4 separate regions of the Homo sapiens genome follow, and all the other regions are linked to region 3. Evidence: fine-mapped expression QTL. A gene starts in region 3. Each other region holds a variant in brackets. All regions are shown on one strand. Distances are from middle to middle.

What was found. PIP is the estimated chance that this variant, and not a neighbour inherited with it, causes the effect. A credible set is the group of variants that fine-mapping cannot tell apart.
Region 1: its variant is the best candidate, but not a certain one, in a credible set for the expression of GRAMD4 in whole blood (TOPMed, PIP 0.76).
Region 2: its variant is the best candidate, but not a certain one, in a credible set for the expression of GRAMD4 in thyroid (GTEx, PIP 0.90).
Region 4: its variant is the best candidate, but not a certain one, in a credible set for the expression of GRAMD4 in fibroblasts (GTEx, PIP 0.81).

Annotation. Positions count from the first base shown.
Region 1 is chr22:46,576,676-46,583,801 of GRCh38, reverse strand. It overlaps a transcript of GRAMD4 not described here. Among named protein-coding and RNA genes, the nearest start is that of LINC02925, 39 kb to the right of the region's middle. RefSeq lists enhancers at 1-520, 1,057-1,156, 1,875-1,954 and a silencer at 6,555-6,754. The variant T/C (reference allele first, on the strand shown) is at 4,049.
Region 2 is chr22:46,653,792-46,660,917 of GRCh38, reverse strand. GRAMD4 (GRAM domain containing 4) reads right to left here. Exons shown (of 19, transcript NM_015124.5): 4 at 2,611-2,731. Among named protein-coding and RNA genes, the nearest start is that of GRAMD4, 37 kb to the right of the region's middle. The variant C/T (reference allele first, on the strand shown) is at 3,650.
Region 3 is chr22:46,616,572-46,623,697 of GRCh38, reverse strand. It overlaps GRAMD4 (GRAM domain containing 4), which reads right to left and starts at 3,312. Exons shown (of 19, transcript NM_015124.5): 1 at 3,133-3,312. RefSeq lists enhancers at 1,573-2,084, 4,513-5,280.
Region 4 is chr22:46,672,163-46,679,288 of GRCh38, reverse strand. GRAMD4 (GRAM domain containing 4) reads right to left here. Exons shown (of 19, transcript NM_015124.5): 14 at 6,292-6,446; 15 at 5,475-5,619; 16 at 4,539-4,632; 17 at 3,737-3,821; 18 at 2,621-2,689; 19 at 1-2,142. The coding sequence ends at 2,038. Among named protein-coding and RNA genes, the nearest start is that of GRAMD4, 55 kb to the right of the region's middle. RefSeq lists enhancers at 4,557-4,616, 4,657-4,806, 5,007-5,086. The variant T/G (reference allele first, on the strand shown) is at 3,326.

The DNA of each region.
Region 1 (7,126 bases), 40 kb after region 3:
CTGACAAACACATCTCAGGTGGGTGGCCAAGTCAGCACCAGTAGCCGCGGGCCACATCGAAGGTATGCGCCTGGCGTGACGTGGTTAGAGGGCACCATGCCCCTGTGGTCTTCCTCCCGCTAAGCCAGGGCCCCAGTCGCACCATGAGAAATACATCCAAATTCCAACAGAGGAATTCCAATTGTTCAAACAGACAAATTCCAATGGATGGAGATCCCACAATACACCTACTATTTCTTAAGACTGTCAGAGTTATCAAAACTAAGAAAAGTCTGAGAAGCTGTCATAGCAAAGAGGAGCTTAGAGAGACATGACAGCTAGATGTCATCTGGGACCCTAGATGCAGTCTTGGAACAGAAAAAGGACATTAGGTAAAACCTAATGAATCTGAACAAACTATGTACTTTGGCTAATGATAATGTATCAATATTAGTCCATGGATTGTAACAAACCTATCATACTAATGTAAGATGTTAATCACCAGACAAACTGCAACTGTTGGTAGGGATAATTGGGAAACTCTGTATTATCTCTGCAATTTCTCTATAAATCTAAAACAGTTTTTTAAAAATAGAGTTGGCTGGGTGTGGTGGCTCACACCTGTAATCCCAGCACTTTGAGAGACCGAAGCGAATGGATCACCTAAGGTCAGGAATTCGAGACCAGCCTGACCAACATGGTGAAACTCCATCTCTACTAAAAATACAAAATTAGCCAGGCATGGTGGTGCATGTCTGTCACCCCAGCTACTTGGGAGGCTGAGGTAGGAGAATCGCTTGAACCCGGGAGGCGGAGGTTGTGGTGAGCTGAGATCGCACCATTGCACTCCAGCCTGGGCAACAAGAGCGAAACTCCATCTCAAAAGACAAAAGAGAGAGAAAGGTGGTCACCACAGGCAGGGAGGAAGGGTCCAGGGAGTGCCTAAAGTGTCTAGAAGGCCCAGGTTCCTGTTTGGGTTTCGATTGTGGTGATGGCTGCACAACTTGGTGAATGTACTAGAAGTCCGTGAACTGTGCACTTTCAATGAGTGTGTTGTATGATGTGTGAATTACACCTCAATAAAGACGCTGACAAACACACCTCAGCCAGGTGGCCAAGGTCAACACCAAGAGTGAGGAACAAACAAATTCACTCCCAGCCTGGCTCCTGGCCCTACCCAACTCCACAGCCCAGCTCAGACCCGAGCCAGGGTCCCAGGATACCAGGCATAATGAGGTGCCGCTCCAGGTCGCTGGACATGAGCAGAGACCCCTAACTTCAGGAGCCCACCTTCTAGAAGGGAAGCGTGGTAAACAGTAGACAAACAAGAACCTCAGGAAGAGGAGAGCAGTGACAGCAGAGGCACAGCTGGGGCACTCATGGGAGGCCTCCCTGGAGGGGGGACGTGGAGCAGAGAGGTCCCAGGAACGGCCGGCAGGGGAACCCACCAAGAGAGGCTGAGCCGTTTCCTGGAGCCTCCTAACCGCCCGCTGCCCAGCATTCAGCTTCTCCCACTGCAGCTTCTCGGGAGTTTGGTGGCACAGAGTCCCAAGCAGAGTCTCTTGTCCCTCCTGTTCCCCAGGGACAAGTAACAATTCACCAAGCACAAAGCTTCACGGTTTCCCAGCAGCCCCACGCTCTGCCTCCTTGGACCTCACTTCACAGAGGGCAGTGACTCGGCCACTGCAAAGTGCATCCCAGAAGCCCTCACTCCTCGACCACCCATGGCCTCCACACCCAGCCCCACCCAGCCCCAGCCAAGGCCCCAGCACTGCTCCTCAGTAGACCTGCTTCCTCTAGGGAAGTGGCAGCCAGGCCTCTCCACCCACCTGGGCCTCCCTGTGGGAGGTGGTGCAGACGCGGCCATCTCAGGCCAGAGCCAGCTCTCAAGCTCTGGCTTCTATACCCTAGGCCAAGGCCTTCGTTTACAGGTGACCAAACTGAGGCCCAGAGAGGTTAGGTGTCTTGCCCAAGAACACACAGCAGCAAGATCAAGCACGCTCTCCGCCCAACCCCCGTGCATATGGGGCTTAGGTTAGAAGCACAGCCCATTGGTCCAAACCCACCTCTACCACGCAGCAACCTGTGGCTCTGTGCCAGGGCTTCCTCCTGCGTGAAATGCAGCTAACAAGAGCACCTACCTCCAGTTGGTACGAAAATAAATCATGTCTCATGCTTAGAGGGCTGTCTGGCCCTGAGCAGGACATGCTGTCCGAATCTTGCTATTTACTGCACATTTGACAGCAAAAAGAGAAGTCTCATCATGACTTTGAGTTTATTGCTGATATTTCTCTCACAAAACCCCCCTTAGAGGAGGGTTATCAGGAAGGCAGAAAGGCTGCAATGTTTATGAGCATAGCCTTGGGGGCAAAGCCACCCACGTGCAAATCCCAGCTCTGCTCGGGAACGAACTGGGGACTTAGGCAAGTGGCACTGCCTCCCGGTGCCTCAGTTTCCTCATCTGTAAAATGGGGTGAAGCTGTGTGCTCTGCAGACTTGGTTGAGACAATTCGTGTGAAACACTCAGCGCAGGCCTGCTGTGCAGAATGAGTGATTTCTATTACTATTATTAATGTTTTTGATAGGCCGGTACTTCCTGCCTTTCCTGTGTAACCACAGGGGACTTTAATCACTGGGCTTAAACATAATCACAACCCTAGGTTATAACTCAAACACCAAACAATCAGAACAGTAGCCCTGTAGACGGGACTGTCATTAGTGGCGAATTACCAGCCCAAAGTGTCCGCCCAGGCCTCTGCCACATGCCGAGATACCAAAGGCAAAACAACAGGGCTTTCTCCAATTAGGGAAACACGCATTTTCTTTTTTCTTTCTTTCTTTTTTTTTTTTTTTTTGAGATGGAGTTTCGCTCTTGTTGCCCAGGCTGGAGTGCAATGGCGCGATCTCAGCTCACCCCAACCTCTGCCTCCCGGGTTCAAGCGATTCTCCTGCCCCAGCCTCCCAAGTAGCTGGGATGACAGACATGCGCCAACACGCCCGGCTAATTTTTTGTATTTTTAGTAGACGTGGGGATTTCTCCATGTTGGTCAGGCTGGTCTTGAATTCCCGACCTCAGGTGATCTGCCCGCCTCGGCCTCCCAAAGTGTTGGGATTACAGGCGTGAGCCAGCGCGCCCGGCGAAACCCACATTTTCTTGCGCCACCTCTGTCTCTAAGAGTCTGAGTGACCTGCCTCTAAGTTCTCAAGTTAAACTATTACATATCCCCAGCAGCCAAGGGCTCCAAGCAGGTGACAGGCTGGCCTGGGCCCCACCCGCTGGGCTGGGTTAGGCCTGTGACACTCTGTTCACATAACTGTCCCCTTGGGAGATCCAGGCCTCCTCTCAGACCCCCCAGCCACACCTGACGGTGGAAGACTTGAACTTTTACTCCTTTACAAGCAGTATTTTTCAGGACCATTGCTGTGCCACCAAAAGGCAAAGAAAAGGCAGATCTAAACCCACCGTGGTGCCAAAGAGACCCCAAGCCAGCCTGTGGGATGCCCAAACCAGAGGCCTTCGAAAGCACTGTGAGTGGTCCACTTGGCCTCGGAGGCGCCCAGCAGATGACCATCTCCAAGCCAGGCAAGAGACGCTGCTTCCCAGCGAGCACCCTCTGCCTTCTGCCTGTTACTCACTAAACCCGGCCACAGCTTCTCTCCCTCAATTCACTGTCAATTTCTGTCGGAGCAGGGATGCTCTGCCACACACCCCAACACTGTCCCTGCTGCCCCGGGCTTTCTGCAGAGACAGTCTCCTTACCCCTAAAGAGGCCAGGCAGCAGCCTCTTGGGCCGCCTTGCAGGGGAGGAGGCAGGAACTCAGGCAGGGGGTGACCAGGCCACCCAGCCAGTCCCTGGTGTCTTCCCTCCCAGCCAGCACACGCCCACACCAACAGGAGCTCTGTAAATACCCAAGTCCCCACCATGGCCACTAGGCAGGAGACCCCAAACCTGACACACAGAAGCCCACATACAGGGACGCCTCCCCAGCTCCCCGAGATGGGGCAGCCTCCTAAAATGAGCCCCTGGCCGGAGCCCTGTCATGACAGGACTGGAACCCCAATGCCAAA[T/C]AAACCCCAGTAGATTCGGCTACCGGAGAGAAATACCCAAACAGAGAAACATGGGGAGATGGAAGGGGGCTTCATGTGGCCCCCAGGGAGGGGAGGGGGCACACGGATGGCACAATCACTAACACAGATCACATCATGGGACTATCGGGGCCCCAGGTTCTCCCATAACAGGAAAGTCACCAGGACCCGTCAAGTGGGGTGCTGCTGTTTCTGTAACATGTCTAACATTGCTCTGATACTCCTTCCAAAGAGAAAACAGGCTTCAGGCTGGCAGCCCTCCCTGGCAGCAGAGGCTCACTAGGCTCCAATAACACTTTCTTTTCATTGAGCCTGAACCACTATTCTATTCTATTCTACAGCAGAAATGGTGATTCAGGAAAACCGGCTCTGATTCTCCTCCCTCGTTTTCCAGTTGGTGAAGGTGAAGCCTGGGAGAGCGGAGAGCAAAGATCACCTAACGCCGGCGCCGGGCTCCACAGATAAGAGGAGGGTACTAAGGGGAAGGCCTGGAAGGCTGGTGGTTTGGAGAGAGACCACCTGGTTCTTTCCCAGTGAAGGGTCCTCCACCTCCCTCAGCAGGAGACCCAGAATAAACAGCCTCCCAGGGCTATGTGGAAACACACCACAACTTGGAGACTTTCCCGTGCTCTCCAGAGTGCAAGACAGACATCACCGGACAGGCCCCGCCTGCCCCCAGGCTGCATGGCTGGGACAGCCGCACTCCACGCATCAGCCATAGGGGCAGCTGAGAGGAAAGAGCAGCAGAGCAGAGGGCTGGTGGCTCACTGAGACCCCAGGTGCCCAATTTCCCAGGCTCCAGGACCAAGCTGCATCTCCCTGTGAGCCCAGCACGGTGAGGACTGTGGGGCTTCGAGGTCTGCCCCGGGACCACAAAGTGCTGCAGAAGGGTCCACATGGCTGCCAAGGCAGGAGCAAGGCAAGACAGGCAGGGCCCCTTTCCTGGACCAGGCAGGGGTCTTCGGAAGGGTGTGCAGCAGGAAGGAGGGGCAGGGTTACTGAGGTCACTCATCTGGGGAGTCCCAGCTAACAACAGGGGAACGTGGTTTCACCCCAGCACGGGGCAGAGGCAGCAACTGAACACACACCCTGGCCAGACTGTGCATCCCCAAATGGGCCTGGGACACAAAAGTCAGGAAGACAGACTTCAGACTTCAGGCTCAGCCACAGCGCCCGGGGCAGAGGCCATGACTGACCTCCTAAACCCATTTTGAACCCCAACCCAGGGCGAGCCCAGCCTGAGGAGGCCCACATCACCCCATTCGATCCTCTTACCTGCCCCTGCCCACTTGCTAGTGAGGAAACTGAGGCCCAGGAGGCTCACTACCTTGCCCAAGGTCACAGAGCAGGAGGGTGAGGGAGGCAAGTCCCAGACTCCTCTCTCGAGTGCTGCCCTCGACTTCTGAGGCAACAGAGCCCTGACCCTGACCTCCCTCCCAGGCCCAGCACCAGGGCAGGGCTGCACTGGGCTGGGACTCAGGCACCTCCTTTTTGGCATGTAGGAGAGACACCTCTGAATTTTCTTCCTAACCCACACAAGGCAGGCAAGAAGGGAACCCCATCCTGCAAAAGGTCTCCCCCAAACCGAATCTTTCCTACCTCAGGAGATGCAGGGTTGACAATAGCCGAAAAAGTGGACTTGGCTCTGGGGGAGTCACACTCAGGTCCCTGGCCCCGGGGCACTGCTGCACCTTCTGCCACACAGCCAACAGGGCAGGGGCACCAGCCCACCCGGCTGAGAACAAACTGGCTCTCCTCCCTCCCTTGTCCAGGACCTGGCAGGGGTGCAGGTCCTGCTCTAGACATGTGGGGCCTCGGGCCGGGGTTGCCACACTGCACCCCACGTTCTGGCAGGCGCACGGGCCTGGGCTACAGCCAAGGTGCCAGCCCGCCCCAGCAGAGCCCCATGAGCTCAACATCCCGAACAAAGGGAGAGAAGACAGGGCAGAAAGTGGGGTGCACGGAGGGGACAAGCGCCCACAACTTTTTGGAGAGGTCGTCTGTAGGGAAGCAGGGGCTGGGGCGCCCTCCTCCTCTCCCGTCCCACCCGGGAGTGGATCGGCAGGACGACATTGGCGGGCCCGGGCCGATACCGTCCCCCTCCAGTGGCCCAGCGTCGGTGACCCCCGGTCCGGCGACCCCCACCCCAGTCCGGGCCCCGCAACCCCGGGATGTCCTCGTCTCCCCCAGCCGGCGGGCAGAACCCGGACCTGCGGCCGCAGGTGCCCGCGGGGAGCAGCCGTGACGCGCGGGACCCGGGGGCGTGTGCGGGGCGCGCCCGCGCAGGGCCCTGCTCGGAGGGTCGCCGGCTCGGGCCCGGGCGGCGGCGGCGGCGGCGGGGAGAGCGCGGCCGAGTGAGCTGGGTCGCGAGCCGCCAGCCCAAAAGGGAGAGTGGTCGCGGGGCAACCAGGTCGGGGTAGGTGGGTGTCCGCGCGCGCCGCTTACCCTGAGCGGATATCGGGGCCAACTCTCATCCACCCGCCGCGGCGCCCCCCTCGCCGGCCGCCCGGCCGCGCTACGCCTGCCGCCCGCCCGGGAGCCCAGCGGCGCCGGGGAGCCGGGAGGAGGCGGCCCCGCGGGTCCCGGCCACGAGCGCGGAGGCGGCGGCGGCGCCAGGTCGCGCGCTCGCGTCCCGCTGCGCGGAGTCTGCGCGCCCCCGGCCCCGTTGCGCAGCCGCCGCCCCGCCCCGCGCCGCACCTTAAAGGGGCCGCGCCCCGCGCGCCACCCCGGCCCCGCCCCCGCCCCGCGGCCGGCTCGGGGGTCCGCGGGGGCGCGCCTGCCCTGGCGGGTCCGCGTGCGCCAGCTCGGTCACGCGGCGCGGCCTTTGTTTGGGTGGCCACGTGCGCCCCCGCCGCTCGCACCCACGCGCACGCGCGGCCGCCGCCGGCCACGGCCACGCCGTCCGCGCGCTTGCCACGGCGGACGCCACGGGCTCACCCGCGGGAGCACGCTCGCTGCTGTGGCCTCGCCCGCGCCCCGCGGGACCGCCCGCCTTTCTAGAGATGGGTCAGGGACTGGGCTGCCGGTGGAAACCCGCGTCCCGGGTGGAAATGCCTTTCC
Region 2 (7,126 bases), 37 kb before region 3:
GACGGCCACTAGGGTCTGCTTCCGTCCCACACCCAGCCCCTCCAGCCAAGGCCTGTGAGCAGGTGCAGCACAGAACCGGGCCAAGTGCTGTGTGGTCGCCCCTAACCTTCCTAACTCTTGGGAAGCGGGAGTGGGGAGGGAGGAAGCTGGGGGAGGAGTAAACCCTGAGAAGAGAACAGAGGGCGGAGCACAGGGCACACAGGGCACGGCCAGGTAAGCAGCGGGCAGGAAGCAGACAGTGAGGTTTTCAGGGGACTTTGGATCCACAATGGAGAGAATCTCTGCCTACTGACAAGTAGCCTTAAACCAAGGTGACTTTCTGAGAATTTTCTTAAAAACCAAAATAGAGGTTTGCATAAACAGAACTGCTGTGCTTTAATCCTGCAGCTTCAGAGTGTGTGGTATGTGTGTGTGCAGTGTGTGCGCACATGTGTCTGCATGTTTGTGTGTGCCCTCACACACCTACCCACCCTGGACAGACCACAGCCACCCAGACCCACCCCAGATCTGCACCAGGACGACAAGGAAAGAGGAGGTCACTCTGCCTGGGACTGCTCTTCCTTCACCCCTCCTCCTTCAGGCTTCCAGAAGGTTCCTAAGCGCCGCCCCCATGTAAAGCAGGGGAGAGCCCTTAATGCTCCCAGGACCTTCAGCTTCCACTTCCTGGGTCACAGCCTGGATGTTCCTTCACTGCCCATTCCCCACCCATTCCCAAGGCAGAGACTGTGCGAGATGGGGCTCCCTGCGTTCTTACAGCTGACCCGGGCTGGGCACACCTGCCACCAAGGGGCTTTGGTAAAAGATGAGGACCAGATCCTGGAGTGGGGCTGGCGGGAGTGAGAGGATGGGAAACAGAACACAGGGAGCAGGGCCACGGGGACAGCCTCAGGCCACCTTAGCCACCGGGGGAGAAGCAGCGTCCCGTGGCGGGGATGGCACTGTGGCCAAATGCCTGGGGACCGCACCTGTCCCTGGGATCTCCCAGCGTGGCAGGTCAGGTCTCTGTTGCAACTCTACATAATTAAATGTAATTTAAGCTTTGAGCTTCTGTGGATTTTCCCAGAAGGTTCAGCATCAGGTAAAGCGCCTGCCGAGGCCCATGCACCCATTTCTGGTCTGGGAGGTTCTGCCAGGGCGGAATAGGAAAGTGAGGCCTCTCCCTCCCCCACACCAGCTGGATGCCCCCACATGAGCCCCCACATGAGCCCCCCAGGGCACTCCACAAGGTCATGCTGACCTGCAGGAGGCGGGCAAGGAAGAAGTGGGAGTCAGCCCAGCGGATCCCCCGTCTTCCCACACACTAAACCTGAGGGTGCTGAAGGGAGCCGCTTCCTCAGGGCCAGCTAAGCAGCGACACTTGGAGTCCTGACAATGACACACGGCCCCCGGAGCGCTCATAGCAGGCAGTGCTCAGCTGGGGTGTCCCAGAGATGCCGTGTGCCTCCCTAACTGGTGACAGCCATCCATGCAGGTCATGGGGGCCACAGACAAAGGTGTGGCCAATGGTGGTGGGAGGCTGAGGTGGGAGACCTGGAGGGAGGCTAAGTGGAGGCTGGAGGGAGGCTGAGTGGAACCTGAGTGGGGAGGCTGAGGGAGTGGAGTCTGAGGACGGAGGCTGAAGATGATGCTGGGGGGAGGCTGGGCAGAAACTGAGGGTGGAGACTGAGGGGGGAGGCTGAGGGAGTGGAGGCTGAGAGGGAGGCCGAAGCAGGAGGCTGCTGGAGTGGAGGCTGAGAGGGAGGCCGAAGCAGGAGGTTGCTGGAGTGGAGGCTGAGCGGGAGGCCTGGGAGCCAGAGGTGAGTGGCCTGAGCTCCCTGGCCTCATGTACCAGGCACCAGTTTGAACTTGTGCAGAGGGACACGGAGCCTCGTGGTGTTAGCGAGACAGGAGGGCACTGGCTTTGTAACTTGCGCTGGGGTCCTGAATGACCTGCTTCCTGCTGGCGGCACTGTGAGGCGCAGGGCAGGGTGAGGGAGGAGACTGTGAGCACTCAGGGTCCCACATGGGACCCACAAACAAGAGCAAAGATGTCAGGTGCAGACATGCCTCTCTAGGAGCCAGGGCGGCACTGGCGCCCAGGACATGATACTGCTAGGATGGGGGCAGGGGGGCGGGGGCCACAGCGTGGCTGGGGCAGACAGGGGGCATGGGAACACGCACAGGCAGCACTGGGAAGGCAGGTCCTGGGAAGATCCTAAGAGGCCGGGCTGGCCCCCGGGGTGGGGCACTGGGTGGATGTACAGAATGGGGTCACCAGCAGGCCGGGATCAGAGCCATGAGGTGGCTCTGGGGCTCTGCAGGCCCCATGCCAAGCCTCTCTTCAGTTGGCCTGGCCCCAGGCCTGGGGGCTGGCAGGAGCACCTGTGCACCCTTTTCCAGACCGCCAGAGGCACAGGAAGATGACACATTCCCAAGACCACAGCTCATGCAGGCACAGGCAGGACCTATACCTGGGCAGTCAGAGCCGGGCCCACCCTCACACTCAGGCCTCTCCAGGGCCAAGAATGATGCTGCCAAGACGCTATGGGTGCAGCAGAGGACGGCGGGGCGGGTGGGGTGGGGGGTTGGGGCAGCCGCACACAGGCCAGGGCCCCGAGGAAGGCGCGGTACCTGGCCTTCAGCACCTCCTGCACCTTCTGCTCCAGCTCCATCCGCCGCTGCCGCTCGCGGTCCAGCTCCTGCCGCAGCATCTCCGCGTTGGTTTCTTCTCGCAGCTTCCGGAGCTCCTCCTCTATGGGGGAGAGAACGGCCAGGTGACCATCGCTCATGTCCACGCGACCCCGACTCTGGGATGCTGGGGCAGGGGTGCCTGACTCAGAAACAGCAGAGGGGTCTCTGCTCCGTAAGCGGACCTGAGCACCTGACCTTCCTCCAGGGTGCGGGGCGCTCACAGCAGGACATGAACTGGTCCCCATCCAGCCCTTCCTCCTGGGCAGGAGCTAGTAACGGGGCTCCTCTTACATGACTGGGGCAAGAGGTGGGTGAAGCAAGGGTGTGAATTTCCTCACTATGCTTCATAACAGTGCAACACAGAACACAAAAGCCATTTCACCAAGCACCGCCACGCTGAGGACACCTGCGGAAAGGACGCTGACCACACCTGGCCAGCCCACCACACCCACCCAGCGCCTCCATGTGCTGGGTGAGGTTCTGGGACGCGTCGGCAGCAGAGCAAAGGCCCTGGGCCAGCGGGGACAGCCCACAGCTCAAGCTGGCCAGGGGGCCTGAGAAGAGCACGGGGCAGGCTGGACACAGGGCTGCTCTGGGAAAGCCTCGGGAGAAGGTGAGTTCTGAGTCAAGGCCTGGAGGGAACACAGCGAGGCCACAGACCCTGGGAAAGAGCATCCAGGCAGAGGGAGGAGGCAGGGTCAGAGGTCAGAGGTCGGAGAGACTGGAAGACTGAGGATGGAAGGGGCCAGGAGCCAGGGAGTGCAGGCAGCCTCTGGCAGTCAGGACACTTCTACCACTTAAAGACAGGAGAGACGGGGACCCGGCCTCTCTCCCGCTTCCTCTGCCCCATCCCTGCCTCTTCCTCCTAAAACCAACACCGCTGGGTCACCTAAGGGCAAGCCTGAGGCCCTTGCTTCTCCCCCACTGCCCTCCCAGGGCCTGGCACAGGCTCCACGCATGAAGAACAAGAGCAACAGAC[C/T]GATGAGAGCAGAGAGCTGGCACCTGTGAACGCCCACAGGTCCTCGGTCCTTCTCAGAGGCCTGGGCCACTGACAAGACCCTGCCCAGGCGCTCCCCACCCCAGCCCATCCACCCTCCTCTGTGTGGTGTCCCCTGCCCAGCCCAACCCTGTCTCCTTGACAGGCTCAGGCAGGTGGCCCCAGGGCCAAGGTCACGGTTAAGTTCAGGTGGAACAATGCTGGTTTACGGGGCAGCAGTGGCTTGCAGAACCCAGCTGAGGGTCACCTAAGTGCTGTCTCTCCCCAGAAGGCTGCCTGGCTGTGGCCTATGGTGGCTGAGGGCTGGCTGTGGCCCATGGTGGCTGAGGGCTGGCTGTGGCCTATGGTGGCTGAGGGTCCAGATCAGTCAGCCTCGACTTCAACTGCACAGACCACACTGACCATGGGGCGGACACGCTGAGACCTTATAAAATGGCAATGGCAGCAGGAGAAGAGCGTTTGCTGGAGTCCCAGGAGATATTCCTGAGACAAAGGAACGTGGCTGATGAATTCACCCAGGTTCTTGGGCAGGGCCAGCAGCCAGACCCCACCAGCGTGAGGCAGGAACCCTTGGGGGTCTGGCCAGCAGCCCAAGGCTGAAGGCAGGCTTCTAAGCCTGGAAGTTTCTTTCTGGGTAGGGTGGGAGTGACCCCAGTAGCTTCCTTTCCTGTCCTGGACACCTCACCACATGACTTGGGGCCACAGGGCCATACCTAAGACTCCAAAACTGGGGCCAAGGGCAGTATGACAGCCTCAGGCCCCAGTCCCAGCCAATGTCCAGGAGTAGCCGTACAGAAACAGCAGGGGGCCGTGCCCAGGCAGGGAGCAGCCGCGGGTGGACTAGGGTCAGTAAACCCAGAAGCCAAAGGTCAGCACACCTTCCTGCCCGGCAGCCACAGGCTCACGGTACCCAAAAGGGAAGAGACAGGCACCTGCATCTCACCAGCCCCACTCCCACTGGGGGTGCTGGATGCTGTTACTCGCTGTTACTAACCAGAGAGAAAATATTCGAATTTACCAAGGGCCAGGATCCACTTGCCCAGTGTGGGTGCTGGAGCTCTGCCCTGCTCCCCGGCCCGCTGGGATCGGCCCTTCTCCAAGCATGGTTTCAGTGTCCTTCAGCATCCTGGACTCCCGAGAGCCCCCCAGGGCAGCTGAGCTGGCCTGGAGAAGACCCTCCCCGTGGAGGCTGGGGTGGGGGGCACTGGGCCTGTCCCTGCGGGCTGCCCAGTCTCATCAGGCTGGTTCCCTCCAGAGCTCCCCCTCCCCGCCCCGCCTCCGTTCTGGGGAGAAGCGTCTGGCCCTGGCACGGCTACTTTTCTCCGCGGACGGAGGTCCCCGACCCGCTGACATGGCCAGGCAGAGCGTTAGCTGAAGCCGGTGCCTCCCCAGGGCTCAGGACAGGCTGCAAGGTACCAAGTGCTCAGTCCCGGAGCTGAGCAAAGGCGGGGTCAGAAGGGAGGCAGGTGGCCTCTGCCTAGGGCCTTGGGGAGGCTTCTGGGTCAGAATTAGGGGCAGGGTCCAGCCCGGCCTGGGGCTCCAGTTCAGAGCAGCAGGAAGGAGGTGGCAGGAGCTGCAGGGCCCCTGACCCAGGGCTGTGGGGGACACGTCTCCAGGGCTGAGGGAGCTACCCCCCAGCCCTCTCTGGGCGGCCGGCTGGCTCCTTTACAGCAGAGGGGAGCAGTGCCAGCCACATTTGGGCGGGGGCCCTTCACCCCCTACACATCTGGGGTTCTTTCTTCCAAGATCCCAGATCCATCCACTCTGCTGGTCTCTCAGCTGCCCCAGCCCCATCCCCATGTTCTTAACCGGCCTCCCAGCTCCTGGCACACCCTCCCGTCCGGCTCCAAGCTGAGGTCCAAGGCTGCTTGTAAAGCACAAGCCAGAACTTGTTGCTTTCCCGCTTAGAACTCCTCACCGGGCTGGCAATGAATCCAACTTCCCAGCTTGAAGCTCCCTCCCGAGGCCCCCACCCACCCACTCCCAGCCTCAGCACCCTCCACACCACCCCTCATCTTTGCTTTTTGGGCTTAAGCCACAGAGACCTGCTTTTAGGTCCTCAAATGTCCAGAAAATATTCAGATTTGCCGAGGGTCGGGCCTGCCCCAGGACTTTTGCATGTGCTGGCCCTGCTCCCGAGGAAGCTTCTCTTCCACCCTCCAGGGTAAGCTGTCCCTCAGCCTCAGTCCTGACCCCAATACCACTTCCCCGAGTGACTTCCCCAACAGCCCCCCCATCTGGCGTAGCCTTCTGTCATCTTCTCTCACGGGTCCTGCTCTTTCCTCTTGGGGACATGATTCCCACTCCGTGTGCTGGGTGGGGATTCCCAGAAATGGCACACAACCTCCTGGTACAGTGTGACGTTTCCAAGCCTCCATTACCTGCAGGCCTCCCTGACTTGTGCCCAACACACCCCACAGGTTCCGGAGGAGGGACCACCCCGGTGTCACCATCTGTTCTGGCCCCAAGACCCAGCCTGGCCCAAGGAGAAACCAGCAAGATGTGGGGAAGGGAGAGTGGTTGGGAGGGGAGCTTGGCCAGTTCTCACGTAGTGCGTCTAGCAGGGAGGGCAGATGTGCTGACCAGCGGGCCGTGCACGGAGTGGAGGCAGGCGGGGACTTGGGAATTCGGTGTCACAGCCCTAACACGGGGATCAGTCCACAAACCCCACCCCCTGCAGGGACCTCCACCCAGCCCCTTGCCAACCTTGCATGTGGCACGAGCCCCCAGCCCCCCGCCCTCGTGGAGCCACTTGAGGGCCGGCTCTGGCACACCTTCGTCAGAAATACTCAGGTAATCATCACACGCCGGGCTCTGCCAAGGCGCCGGGACACCACCATGAACAGAGGGGACAACACCCTGCCCTGAGAGGGTGCCTGGGTGGGTCCCCAAGAGCAGCATGGAGCATGTGAACCCACTGCGTGAGCCCGGGCTGGCCCTGAAGCCCTTGGTGGGCGGGTCCATGCCCCAAGGCAGGAGGAGCCTGGGGACCCTTCCTCCGAGGGGTCACACGCCCACTGACAGCCAGGAGAGCCTGGGCATCTTGGCCCACCTGAGATGGATGCTGCCCTCCCACCCTACCCCCCAGCCACCTCCAACAGACCCGATTCTCAGCCTCCTGGCCCCTCTTTCGGTGTGGCTGGCATACAGAAGGGGCTTAATCAAGGCTCACTGGATAAGCGAAGGAAGGAACCAAATGCCCCGTCAGCCGGTGTTTCTCCCCAAAGGGAGCGTCCGCCTGGCTCAGTCCCAAATTCGGAGCCAGCTGGGGAGGGTTCAGAGAGAGCCACGGGGTGTTTCCATCTCATGCCTCTGTCTTCATGTTGTGGCAGTGACTCTATCACGTGGGAACACAGAGGTGAGACAAGTCACACTGGGCAGGCTTGCTCCCGGCAGGCCTCTTGGGCGGAGTAGGCCAAGGCGGGAAGGCTCAGGTACTTTCCCAGGTTAACTCCTAGT
Region 3 (7,126 bases):
TAGGCCGGGCATGGTGGCTCATGCCTGTAATCTCAGCACTTTGGGAGGCCGGGGCGGGCGGATCACGAGGTCAGGACATCGAGACCATCCTGGCTAACACGGTGAAACTGCATCTCTACTAAAAATACAAAAAAGTCAGCCAGGCAAGGTGGCGGGCACCTGTAGTCCAAGCGTCCCAGCTACTCAGGAGGCTGAGGCAGGAGAATGGCATGAACCCGGGAGGCGGAGCTTGCAATGAGCCGAGACTGCACCACTGCACTGCAGCCTGGGGGGCAGCGTGAGACTCTGTGTCAAAAAAAATAAAATAAAATAAAGAAAGGAAACTAAAGCTAACCCGGGCTGCGGAATGCGGCAGAGCAAGCACACAGACGCCCCCTCAACCGGCCACCCCACAACTCAGTACCAGGACCCTAGGACCAAGCTCAAGAAGTGGAGGCCTGGTGGGGGGAAACACGTCACACACCATCCATCAAGACCAGCAGGGCAGGGGGTCCTGGAGCACCCTGGTGGACCCACACAGGACCCCGTCCTTGTAAAGGGATGAAGGCAACTAAAACCGGGACCTTCCTGTGACTGTCGTTATGGCAAACAGGTGCGTGAAGAGACTCGGGCGCTATGGGGCCAGACGTCGGGAGTATGGGCTTACGGTGGTCGTTAACAATTCTCTCTCCAAATCTCCTAAAATGCCTCCCTATTACTTCTTTTCCCACAATATTTTTTAATTACGGTAAAACACACATAATATAAATATTACCAATTTCATCAGTTTTTTTTTTTTTTTTTTTAGAGATGGAGTCTTGCTCTGTCGCCCAGGCTGGAGTGCAGTGGCGTGATCTCGGCTCACTGCAAGATCCGCCTCCTGGGTTCACGCCATTCTCCTGCCTCAGCCTCCCGAGTAGCTGGGACTACAGGCACCCGCCACCACACCAGCTAATTTTTTGTATTTTTAGTAGAGACGGAGTTTCGCCATGTTAGCCAGGATGGTCTCAATCTCCTGACCTCGTGATCCACCCGCCTCGGCCTCCCAAAGTGCTGGGATTACAGGCGTGAGCCGCCGTGCTCAGCCCAACTTCACCAGTTTTTAGCGTGCAGCTCCGTGGCATAAATTACATCTGTGATGCTGAGCGGCTGCCTCCGGACTCGTCTTGTCTAACTGAAACTCTGCTCACTGAATAGGAACTCCCATGCCCTCCCCAAGCCCCCGGTAACCACCATTTTTACTGCTTTTTAATGTTTAAAAAGGAAGGATGAACGGGCTAGGGGAAGTGTAGCAATGTAAAACCTACTTCCTTCCATTTTCAAAAACCCGGCGAGTCCTCCTGGTTGCGGCAGCTGAGAGGGAAGCGGAGGGGATGACCCGGGCGCTGGGGCCTGCAGGCCCTGTGTAGGGCACCGAGCTGGCCTCCACCCAAGGAAAGCAGGGGACACGCTTGGACACGCACAGAACTCTTGGCTGCCTGCAGGGCTCTGGGCAGAGGACAGCCCCCTTGTCTGGGAGGCTGTAATTCCGAGGCCAGGGCTGCCTTCCCAATCACCTCAGGCAAGCAAATGAGGCAATGAGAGAGGGGACAAAGGCCCTGAGTGTCCCGCCTGTCACCATCAGAATGCAATGCGTGCCCCGCCAGTGTCCAGCTACTCCTCAGTCTGCTCTCCCAGCCACCGGCTCAGCCCCAAACCCAGGGTCATCCTGCTGGATGGTTCACAGCGGCCCTTGGGGAGGGCGTCCACACATCAGGGTCCTAGACGACCCTGCTCTCAGCCCCACTGACTCCACCACCCTCCTCACCCAACTCCCTGGGTCCATCAAAAAGACAGACTTTTCAAGCTTCGGTCAGTTAAGAATCAAACTCCATGTCACGACACATGTCACCACACACTGCCAGGGATGGACCTTCCAGCCTTCACCACCAGGGATGGGCCCGGGCTACACTTCCAGCCTGCGCCTGCACCGGGGTAGGGGTGCCCTCCGCGACACAGCGCCAGGGACGGGCCCGGGCTACGCCTCCAGCCTGTGCCTGCACCGGGGTAGGGGTGCCCTCCGCGACACACTGCCAGGGATGGGCCCGGGCTACGCCTCCAGCCTGCGCCTGCACCGGGGTAGGGGTGCCCTCCGCGACACACCGCCAGGGATGGGCCCGGGCTACGCCTCCAGCCTGCGCCTGCACCGGGGTAGGGGTGCCCTCCGCGACACACCGCCAGGGATGGGCCCGGGCTACGCCTCCAGCCTGCGCCTGCACCGGGGTAGGGGTGCCCTCCACGGCCACATGGGCAGCCCCCGCACTGCACTGAAGAGTGCTCCACTGTACACCAGGGTGACTTCATCTCAGTGACATCTGCAAAGAGCCATTTCCAAGTAAGGTCGGGTCCACAGGTACGAGGTGGACATGAATTTTGGGGGAGGACACTATTACCCAGCACACGCCCAACTTACAGATGCAGGAACCAAGGCCCGTCTACACACTGAGCATAGCTCCAGGCTGCACCTCAGGCCAGACCCGGGTCTCCCGACACCGCCCACCTGCGTCTCACCTGCACCTTCCGTCCTGCGTGCTGCAGCCGCGCATCCCCAACCAGACGGCCCCTGCCCTCCCCACTTCTAGCTGCCCATCCCCACCCCCTCCACGGTCCCTGGAGGAAGCCCAGCTCCTCAGCCTGCAGCCCAGCCGCTCTCCCCAGGACCAGCCCCTCCACCTGCACCTACAGGCCCACCCCTGGCAGCCCAGGGCCCCTGCAACTCCGAGCCATGCGGCCCTCTCAGATCGGCCTCCTCCCTCTCGGATGGGCCTCCCTCCCTCTCAGATCGGCCTCCCTTCCTCTCGTCCTGTCAGGTTCTGAGGGGCTTCCTGGGAGGCTCCTCCTCTTGCCGGCCCTCCTGACCAGGCCAGGTTCTCAGGAGGCCTCCACCCTTCCTCACTGGACCCCTGGCCCCGGGCTGCGCAGGTGCTTTACCGGTGGGGTCTGGCCTGCACCCGGCCTTGGGAGGGAGCCTGCCTTTCAAGATCAAGATGGCTCCAGAAGAGCACGTGGTAGCTGGGACCACTGCCCCAGAGAGTAGCAGCTTTTCCCAAGGCTGGGGCTTCCACTCAGATGGGCCCTACCATGTCCCCCTGCCCCCTGCCCCCTGCCCCCTACCTCCGTCTGTCTCAGATACATCCAGAAACACTCTTTCACTGTGGCTCCTTCAGGTCCTGGCCCAGAACCAGGATGTGCTACGAGGACCCAGGAACCATAGCCTCCAAGCCGCCCAACACCAGCAGGCACGGAGAGGGTGGTGTCTGCTGCCCTGGAGCCTGGAGGACTCCAGTCCTGTGCACCAGAGCAGGGCAGCAGGGCTCACCACGGCTGTCCAGGTTCTCCCAGGATCCCCCAGGCTCAGGGCGGCGCCCGGCCAGGCTCCAGGCCCTCTCTGCAAGCAGGACGGAATTGGGCCAGCCAGCCCTGGAACACAAAAGCATGCTGCTCTGGAAACCGCTGAATTGCTTCTGGACACACAAAGGCAACAGTGTCTAGGGAACCCTGGACTCAGAAACCGCAAAGGACTTTATTTCCCCTTCCCCAGCCCAAGATTTAAAAAAAAAAAAGTGGTTCCTGGTCTCTGGCGCTTGCCCTGAGCCGTGTCTCCTTCACACCATCTCCCCTGCTAAAGTTCCTCTCCGAGTTCTGGGTCCCTGGATCACAGCTGACCTCCACATCAGGGCCCGGCTGCTGGCACGCCCTTCATCCCCTTATTATCTGGCGGCTCTCCTGCTGATCCTGGGATAAACAGCATCCGCTTTCCCACAGCCGCCAGCCCTCCTAAGCAATGTCCCTGGGGGACTCGCAGATGTTGAGCGACACAGACACACCTCCCCCACCCCCACTGCAGTGGGCCCCAGCCCCCACCTGGCCCTCCTCCAAGTCTCAGTCCTCTAGGGAAGGTAGCCCCTAAACCTCACTGTCAGAAAGGCCTGGATGGAGGTTAGACCAGCAGCTGGACAGCCAACCTGGGCAGCTGAAGAGGACGTGAGGATGGGGCAGCTGGCAGACTCCAGGGCTTTGCAGAGTGAACAGGAGGACCGGGGGCGGCCAGCAAAGAAGGCCTGGTTCTACCAATACCCCATCGCCAGCCAGGCACCAGGGCTCAGGCCTGTAATCCCAGCACTTTGAGAGGCTGAGGTGGGCAATGCAGTGACACAGAAAGTGAAATAAGAACATGAGCCAGCGTGGTGGTACGTGCCTACAGTCCCAGTTGCTCAGAAGGTTGAGGCAGGAGGATCGCCTGGGAACCTGGGAGTTTGAGGCTGCGGTGAACCACGATCGTACCACTGCACTCCAGCCTGGGTGAGGGCCAGACCTTGTCTCTAAGAACAAAACAAAAACATCCACCCCAATGTCCCCATGCTTACAGCCACATACTTGCACCTCCCTAACTCCTGATGCAAAGAGGCCCAAGGACCCAGCACACACACAGCTCCCTGGGCCCTCTGGGGTCCTGAGACTGCAGATCCTGCCCTTCCAGCCCGTGCCCGACCTTGGCCACTATTGTTCCAACATCAGCCTCAAGAGGTCGGCTCACAACTGATGACATGTGTGCTGCCCCAAACTCAAGGCTTGTCCAGGAGTTTCATCCCCTCCCTGGATTCAGGCCTCAGTCCTGCCAGCTGGGCACAGTCAGGCGGCCTCAAATGCTGATGTCCGTATCCGGGTGTTTGGCTGCTCTCAACCCTGCCCCCTGACCTGGCCTCCCTGCAGGCTCCAAGCCGGACAGCTCACCAGTATCTCAACTATGCCACGCCTGGCACAGACTCGGGTCTCAAGGGGCACTCTGACTGGATGGCACCGTGTCCACCAGCTGTCTGGGTGAAACCCTCAAGAGCCCTTGATAGCCCCGTTCCTCACTCCACTGCCAACCTGCAGCGCACGCCGGCCGCACGCCTCCAGACGGGGCTGCACATCTGTCCACCTCTCCCCACGACCCCAGCCTGGTCCAGGCAGCCGCGTGCCTCCCCTCTCCCCACCACCCCAGCCTGGTCCAGGCAGCCGCGTGCCTCCCGAAGCCTTCTCCACATGGCAAGCATGGTGAGGCCTTCAAAGGCAAAATCAGCCTCTGCAGCGCCCCTGCCAAAGTTCTCCAGGGGCTTCCACGCACCCGGGTCAACACGGCTGCTCCCCCGACACCCTCATCAGCTCTGGCTCATCTAGGCTTGGCTGCAGCTCTGCCGACCCCCTTTGCAACCCTCCGACCACCGCCTCTGTCCCCACTGCAGGGCCCGACACGTTTGGCTCCGGGACGTCGCTCATTTGCCCCATTCCCTAGGCGCCGCCCGCTGTCATTCCACCATCCTGTTTGGTTTGACGTGGGGTCCTTGGATTGCCCTGATGGCTTCCTTGTTTAGCGCTTGTGCCTCCAGTCCTGCTTGGTTAGAACCCGCCTGGTGCTCCCCCGGGGCAGGGGCTGTGTCTGGCTAAGTCTCCAGGGGCTCGGCTCTGCCGGTGATGCTCAGGTGGACTCGAGCTGCAGGCACCCGAGTCTCCCTCTGCAGAGCTTGGCACGTGGTGGGCAGTGACAAACACTTGTTCAGAGAGTGAGGGAGCGACACACAAAGGCAGCCCAGATGCCACGGCTGGGGGGTCCCCGCCAGCCTGAGCCCGCAGCCACCAGCTGAGCTTTCTTTCCTCTGCCAGAGGCCTCAAGAGAAAGGGACACCCATGGACTAGGGACACCCATGGACTCTGCCTTGGGCCCTGCCAAAGCACAGCGTCCCTGAATACACAAAAACTTTTAACTACAAGCCTTCAGTGATCTGGGATGTTTCTCCAGGAAGAAACCTGAATTCCTTCCCTTGGCAAAGTATCTTCAGGCTTGAGTCATACGAGGGTCAGGCTGGAACCCCATGTGGGGAGCTGAGCCTTCTGCACTGTGACAGGGAAGCCACCCAGGGGGGCCAGGGAGCGGGCCCAGGGCTAAGCACACCCTGGGGTGCTAATGCCAGCACGGTGTATGGCCCGCTCTGGGGCCACTTGCCAGCGTGGCCCAGGAGAGACAGTCAGGAAGACTGGGAGGGCCAGGAGATGCCTACGTGAGTCTCCGCTTCTTCCTCTGTGTGCTGGGATCCTGCCCAGGCCTGGGGAGGAAGGAGCTGGTTAATGTTTAAGGACCCAACACAGAGGAACCTACACGCACAAGGGAACCTACACGCACAAGGGAACCTACACACGGGGAAACCTACACGCACAGGGGAACCTACACACAGGGGAACCTACACGTATGGGGGGAACCTACACCCAGGGGAACCTACACACAGGGGAACCTGCAAGCACAGGGGAAGCTGCACACACAGGGGAACCCGCACACATGGGAGAACCTACACACGGGGGAACCTACATGCTTAGGGGAACGTACACACAGGGGAACCTACATGCACAGCAGAACCTACACACGGGGGAACCCACAAGCACAGGGGAACCTACACACTGGGGAACTTACACATGGGGGAACCCACACGCACAGGGGAACCTACACACGGAGGAACCTACACGCACAGGGGAACCTACACACGGGGGAACCTACACACACAGGGGAACCTACACATGGGGGAACCTACACGGACAGGGGAACTTACACATGGGGGAACCCACACGCACAGGGGAACCTACACACGGGGGAACCCACACGCACAGGGGAACCTACACACGGGGGAACCCACACGCACAGGGGAACCTACACACGGGGGAACCTACACGCACAGGGGAACCTACACACGGGGGAACCTACACGCACAGGGGAACCTATACGCACAGGGGAACCTACACACGGGGGAAACTACACGCACAGGGGAACCTACACACGGGGGAACCTACACACAGGGGAACGTACACACAGGGGAACGTACACACAGGGGAACCTACACACACAGGGGAACCTACACACAGGGGAACCTGCACGCACAGGGGAAGCCACACACACAGGGGAACCTGCACACACGGGGGAACCTACACGCACGGGGGAACCTACACGCACAGGGGAACCTACACGCACAGGGGAACCTACACACAGGGGAACGTACACACAGGGGAACGTACACACAGGGGAACCTACACACACAGGGGAACCTACACACAGGGGAACCTGCACGCACAGGGGAAG
Region 4 (7,126 bases), 56 kb before region 3:
AAACCACCCGACGCTGGTAAAGCCCCATCTGCCCCAGGGACCCCTCCCGCTGTGTTTGGGGACTGAATCCCAGCACCTAGGAAGAGGCGCTCATTGGCCCCGAGGCCCCGGACCCATCCTTGGGCACTGCCGGGCCCTGGGGAGAGAGGTGTGGCCATTGTCTGCGGGCACTGCCTCTGCAGCCGCCCCTGGGGGTGGGTCAGTGCCCACCCTGTGTTGCCTCAGGCGCCAAGGTGGGGTTCACTGGGATATGTCCCCCTCCCCTGGTGCACCAAGAGAGCCAGTCCCCTACAGGAGCCAGACCCACGGCTCAGAGCGGGTTCTGTCCCCATTCGGGAAAGGCCGCCGTGTGGTCATCCTGACGCCAACGTCCGCGCAGTCCAGAGCCACGGGGGCTCCGCTCCACCGCCTGGGATAGGACATGTGCTTAATCTGGTGATCGGCGCAGCTCCCCCCAAAGCACCCCCGGCACCAGCGTGTGACTCTGCGGCCCCTCGTGAAGGGGGTGAAACCAGCCCATGCCGCCGGATCCCTCACCCACACCAGCAAATGAGGATCGGAGCAAAGATAAAAATTACATCTGAAAAAGGATACAAAAATAAGAAAACCAGCTTGCTCGCTGTAAAAAATAGAATCTTCTGTTTCTTCAAAAAACAACAATCTCAACGACACCCAAGGGACTCAGGACAAGCTGAGGGAGCTGCGGGATCCGCCCCAGCAGACACGCAGGCCCGCGGGGTGGCCACCTCCTTCCAGGAGGCCCAAGCCGCCTTTCCCTCCCTTCAGCCCAGCGCAGGCGGCCCCAGCAGACCAGGCCTGCGGGCGCTCCCTCCACAAATGCCACCTTGTTCCCGGGAAGCCCAGGCTTCCCTGGGGCAGGGCGGGGGCTGGGGGGGTCTGTGCCCGGACCGGCACCGGCTAGGCACGCGGGGGAGGGAACGCTGTCGCATGTCGGCTGCAGGCAGTGCAGGCCCAGGCCTCTGGGCTCGGCTCACGGTTGCTCCCTAAAGCACAGGGGCTGCCAGAGCCTCTCGGATGGCCCAAAGGCGGCTGCAGCCTGGGCCACCATGGTCCCGGAACACTCCTCCCCACTTCCTCCCCCAACCAACCCAGGCAACCGCAGCCTGGGGGCCATGTGCCAGACATGCCACAGTGCTCGGAGCACCTCCAACAGCCTTCGCGGATGTTCTCCTGGGCCTTCCAAAGAGCAAAGTGTGAGAAAGATGTGCTTTTACCTGCACCATCCTGTGCCCTTACTGGTCCCCAGCTACAGACCTCCTGGCCGGCGTGTCAGGCCGAGAGCAGCAGGCAGGCCCTTACAGACGCGGTGCTGAGCGCCCTGGAGGCCAGCAAGGAAGGTGCCACCAAAGACACTGAGGGCAGGCGAGGGGTGGGCCCTTCTCACCCTCTCTGTTCCCGTGGAGCGAGTGTGGAGCGCAGGCAGGGTCACTGCGCCCGGCCCCAGCCCGGCACCAAGGGCAAATGCCACAGGAGGGTCTCATGTAAGAGGAAGGAGGGCCGCCAGGCCCGTTTCTCGGTGGTTGGTGAAAGGCCCCCATGTCCCTCCTTGACGACATCTTTCTGTCCCCAGGAGGAAGGGCCCCGCACTCTTCAGCTATGGCTTTGGTGGTGGACGAGCTTCTGGCCTCTGGAGAGCGGGACACAAGGTTGCGAGAACCTCTTGGGGTGGCTGGAGAGGTTTCTCTGTCCAGGCTGGAACGGAGAAGGGCAGGGCCAGGGGTCCTGTGTGTCTTCTCCACGGGCCCCCGAGGGCCTCTGCCCCCTCCCCCAGTCTGCGGGTGGCCCTCAGAGGCACCTGACGTGCCCTGTGGGAGAGGGGCACCCCCGTCCCTGTGAGCCCTGGCCCCTTCTTGGTCGATAAAACGCAGAGGTCAACACAATAGAACCACAGGTCCAGGAGAATTATTGCAAAAGCTCATGAGGATGTCCAATTGTTTCCACTACCAAATCGTAAAAAAAAAAAAAGAAAAAGAAAAAGAAAAAGAAAATTCCAGCAACGTCCTGGGCAAGTCAATACTAGCTGTCCCCGCCAGACGCTGCCGCTGAGGTGATCTTGATGTACTGGCTGAGAATGGTCTCGAAGGCCTCATCCCTGTGCACCATGGCACCAAACACGAGCGGCTGGCAGGGAAGAAATGCCACCAGTGAGCATGGCACAGCCAGGCTGGCGCCAGGACCAGGACCGAGACGAAGTCCAACACCAGCCCCAGGCCAGCACGCTAGTCACGTGGGTCTGGGTGCAAAAGACAGGTGTCTCCCCACCACCCGGAGCCAGGCTCCAGCCTTCAGGGGAACAGAGCCAAGAGGCAGAGGGGAGCCAGGCTTTAGCCCCGTGCCTCCCTCCTCCCAAGTCACTGAGTCAGGGGACCCCTGTGCCCAACATCCCTGTCTGTCCGGTGACTCGATGGCCCCAGCAAGATTTCCAACCCAACCTGGACGCAGCCCCAGGCTCTAGCTGCTGCGAGGGAGGGGGCGGCTTTGTGACCCTGCTGCCCAAACTAAAACTCTGGCTGTCTGCCCCACGCTGGTCCCAGGGTTGCTCAGAGTCAGGCCCCTGGGCCCACACCAACCCCTTGGCGGCCCCCCGCCCGGCACCTACTTTCTGGGTGGATGGCGTCGACACGGCAATCCCCATGCCTGAGCCTGGGAGGACAGACAGGACCTTGTACTGAAAGGCAAAGCGTGGCCGTCACCACAGGTCTCTCCTGGGGACAGGGAGGCACAGCCCTCCACAGGCCCAGGGCATCCTCCTCCACTGGGCACACAGGCAGCAGGGCCCACGGGCACCTGGGACTTCCAAACAACAGAAGGTAAGGGCCTGTGGACACCTCCTCACTTTGTGGCCGAGACACCAGACCTGTAAAGGGTCTGTCCCACCCCAGCCCAGACCGTCGGCCAGCTGGCCTGAGGAAGGTCAGAGACAAGCCGGCCTGAGGAGGCTGACGGTAGGCACTCAGCCCCAGAACTCGCTCTCAGGGCCTGGCACCAGGAGGGCCATCTGTCAGCACCGCCAATCCCAAGAGGCAGGCGGAAAGGACCCCAGCCCTGAACTCACCCCTTCTGGTCACCTGACTGCACGCTTTTTTCCAGAGCCGGGTGGGAGAGATGACCCACAACTGCCGTGGGGCCGGGAGTGCCCGCCGTGCCAATGCGGACATGCCCAGGACGCTCGGAGCTGGGAGGGAGCTGGGGGCCCTGACCACTCGGGCCAAGTGTGCCTGCCAGTGCCTCACTGAGCCTTCCCTGCCCCAGAAAACAAGGGACCACAGGCACTTGTGGCCACGCCCACCTGCTCATTCCATGC[T/G]ACGGTAAAATGCTGAGAAAATGCCCAGAGCGGGCGCGACCATCTGAGCTCCCACCTGAAAACCTGCATCCGAGGCAGGGGCTCAGGGCCCCTGTGCTTTTCTTTATGGGGAGGGTCCCAGATACGAGGGGAACACAGCAGCCAGAGTGGGGCTTGGGTCCTGACCTCCTGGGCTCCAACCCAGCCCCTCCACTTTGAGACACACGGTCCAGGCAAGTGGACCCCAGGGCAGGGGCAGACCCACAGGGACATGGGGACTCAAGTCAAGGAAACGGACCATGGCCGGCCAGCGTGGCCGCGGCGCCCAGATGCTGACAGAGGCTGGCAGAAGTCTATAGGGAAAGCCTCGCCAGCCTCTGTCAGGTGACGAAGAAAACACGGGGGTTAGTGGGGGTGGGTAGGTGCACCAACCTTCTGGATGTCCGTGATGTCCACTAGCTTGATGACTTTGTTCCTCTTTGAGGACCCAGATTTGGAGCTTTCGAAGCACAAGTAACTGGAAGGGGAACGGACAGAGGCGTCGCCTGGCTCTTGAACCAGAGCACGCTCCCACCAGGTGGGGGTCTCCCGGGGCTGCCTCTCAGCCCCCAGTGGGATGGACAGTGGTGCTCCCTTCCCAGCAGACACAGAACCGGTGAAACACTCACGGCCACTGCTCTATATGAGACACTCACGGCCACTGCTCTGTGTGAAACACTCACAGCCACTGCTCTGAGACACTCACGGCCACTGCTCTGAGTGAGACACGGCCACTGCTCTGAGACACTCACGGCCACTGCTCTGAGTGAGACACTCACGGCCACTGCTCTGCATAAGACATTCACAGCCACTGCTCTGAGTGAGACACTCACGGCCACTGCTCTGCATGAGGCACTCAGGGCAACAAGGACTCAGGGCCTCAGCAATAGCAGGTCCCCACACGGTCCCCTCCTTGGGAGACTCTGCCCCTCGTCTCCATGAACTGCTTGGGCCCCAGAGAAGACAGCATCCCCGCCAGCCTGAGGGATGGCAGCAGTACAGCCCAGGCCACGTCCGGCTTGGAGACAACACCTTTTCCCTGGGAGCCCAGACAGCCGGCAAGAGCAGAGCATGGGAGAGGCCATGGCCACCACTCAGGAAAACCTGCACTGGGCCAGCCACGCCATCCCAGGGCCTAGGCAGCCTCCTGCGCCCCCTCCCCTGCAGCCACACAGGGCCCCACGGCTGCACTCACTTCTCCGTGACGTAGAGCACCCCGTTCCTGATGTAGTCCGTGGGCATCTTCCGGTCCCTGTTGATGAGGCAGCAGCGCCAGCCATTCTCGCACACTAATGGGAGAAGGCCCGCCTGTCACACTTTCCACTGGAAGTACCCAGCCTCTGACCTGACGCTGGGACCCAGGAGCCTGACTCTCAGATCCTGACATCCGCCCACCGCGCTCACGTCACACCCACAGTGAGAGGAAGGCGCGCCGGCAAGAGTGAGGTGGCCCCAGAGGGTGGAAAACAGATGTTTCCTCTTCAACAGGCACTGGCAGGGTTTTTAAAGTAAAAGCACCCAGGCAGAGCAGGGAGCAACAGAAGTCACAGTGTGGCCGGGACACCACCTCCAAGACCGGCAGGGTCAGGGCGCTGGGACACCACCTCCACCAAGACCGGCAGGGCCAGGGCTCAGCAGAGGACGAAGCTCCGTTCTCCGCAGCTGCCTCTGCAGCCGCTCATCACACACCTCGAGCTGCCCGGTTTAGTTTAACAGGCCCTCCCTTTGGGAAAGCTGACCTGTCCCCAGGATCCTGAGTCACCTGTCCCCTGGTGGCTCTTGTTTCTCCAGACACGATGGAACCAGGGGCAGACCCCCTGCCAGCGCCCTGCAGGCCCTGAGGCCTCGCCCTGGACTCTCTCCCCAGTGTGTTGCCTGCACGCCTGCTGTCAGGGGAGTGCTGCAGCGTGGGCGGCTCTCCCCACGGGCACGCCCTCCTCCCCTGTAGCCCGCAGAGTCCTCATGACCCCTGGCTCCTGCACTCCTCCTGGGGCAGTGGGATGTGAATGCCATCCTGAGGGCTCCTCTGGCCTGTCACAGGGCGACCCCGTCCTGCATCCACAGCGCCCCCCTCACGGGCCTTCAGTCTGTGTCGGCGCTCGGCCTGGCCTCAGACTCACGGCACACATACCCGCCAGCGGACGCTCGTTTTCTGTCAGATTGAAGATCTCGTGGAAATTGCCCTTCTTGGTGCTGTGGAAGCGACCGGCGTCCTCCTCTTTACCCAGGCCGGCCGGTGCGCTGGGTACGTAGCTCCGTGACGAGGTCGTCTGCAGCTGCCAACGGCAAACAGCGTCGAGGTCAGGCCCGCTGCCCACGCCTGCAGCACCCAGATGTGCTGGCCGCACACACACCTCCCCAAAAGCTGGGATCCAAATTTGGGAAGACGTTCCCGAGGTCCCTTCCGGCCCAGAGCGGCTCCTTCTTCCAGGCAGGGCCACCTCACCTCAGTGGGGAGAGCCCAGCAACCCTCCTGACTCATCTGAGCCACCCCGAAGGGAGCACCGAGGCCTGCTCATTCCCCGTGGTCCTGGCTGGGATGCTGTGCTGCACATCTGGAGGGCCTGTGACTGTGAATGAAATATGGCCCAGTGCCAGGCTGTGGCTCCAAGGGGGCCCTTCTCAAACTGCCTGGTCTCAGCGCCAGAGCCTCACTGTCAGGGATGGCAGGGGCCGGGCACCCCCATGGAGTGGTCACTCCCAGGCCTGCTGGCTCTCAGTCATCATGGCCAGTCCCCAGGTGTTGCCCTGGGCTTGGGAGGGGCTGGATGAGCCTCAGAAACCGCAGTGGTAACAGGGAAAAAAAAAACCCTCAAGTTTAAGGAGTCTATAAAATTGAAGAAACAGCCTCTAAATGAGCCGGAGGTGAACAGAGCACTGTGGGCCTGGGGATGCCCGGCTTCGTGGCCCCCCATCCCCCCATCCCCGCAGCTGGGGGCCGGGCTCACCCTGCGTGAGACTGCGGCGCTGGAGCGCTCCTTGAGCTGCGGGTCGGTGGGGAGACTCCTCCAGATGATATAGGGCGTGTCGTACTTGGCGCGCAGCCTCGGGCAGCGTTTAAAGATGAAATCAATGAGGAAGAACTTGATACCAGCATAGAGTCCTGAGGGCAGGGGACACAGCCTGCTCCATCTAGAGCTCTGCAGCTATGCCAGTCTACTCAGGGTGATGGTTCCGGCACCTCCCACCTCCCAGATTGGCACCCTCCACCCTGAGCCTGGATGTGAGAGTCCAGCTGCTCGCTCAGTCCTCACCCTGGATACCCCCAGCCTCGCTCCCCTGGGGCCCATTCGTGCTGCACAGTCTCAACCCCAGGCGAGGGCCCCACTGCCAGCGCCCCACCCACTCCCACTAAGACCCCTCAGCTCTGCTAGGACCCCCCCATCCAATGCCCCTCACTTCTCTCTCCAACTCCGCCTGGCTCAGGGCTGTTCTTGACCCACCTGAAACACTTCAGGACTGTGCCTCCTCTGCCCCAATTCCCCACACCTGACACCAAATCTGAGGTCCCTCCATGGCAATCCCTCCCCAAACCCCCTCCCACCTGCCCTTCTTCAACTGGGTGCCCCCCCACGCCCAGCCCATCCCTGCTGAGAGGCCGCCCATGACCAGCTGCTCAGACGGCTCCCAGCCACGCCCTCGCAAGTTCCCCTCCACCAGCTCCGTTTTCTCCCCGATACTGTCACCTGACACAATCATGGTCAGTCCCCCTACTAAACACGACCTCAGAAGAGCCAGGCCTGACTGCGCCCCAGGACCCCACCTGGCAACAGATGCAGGGAT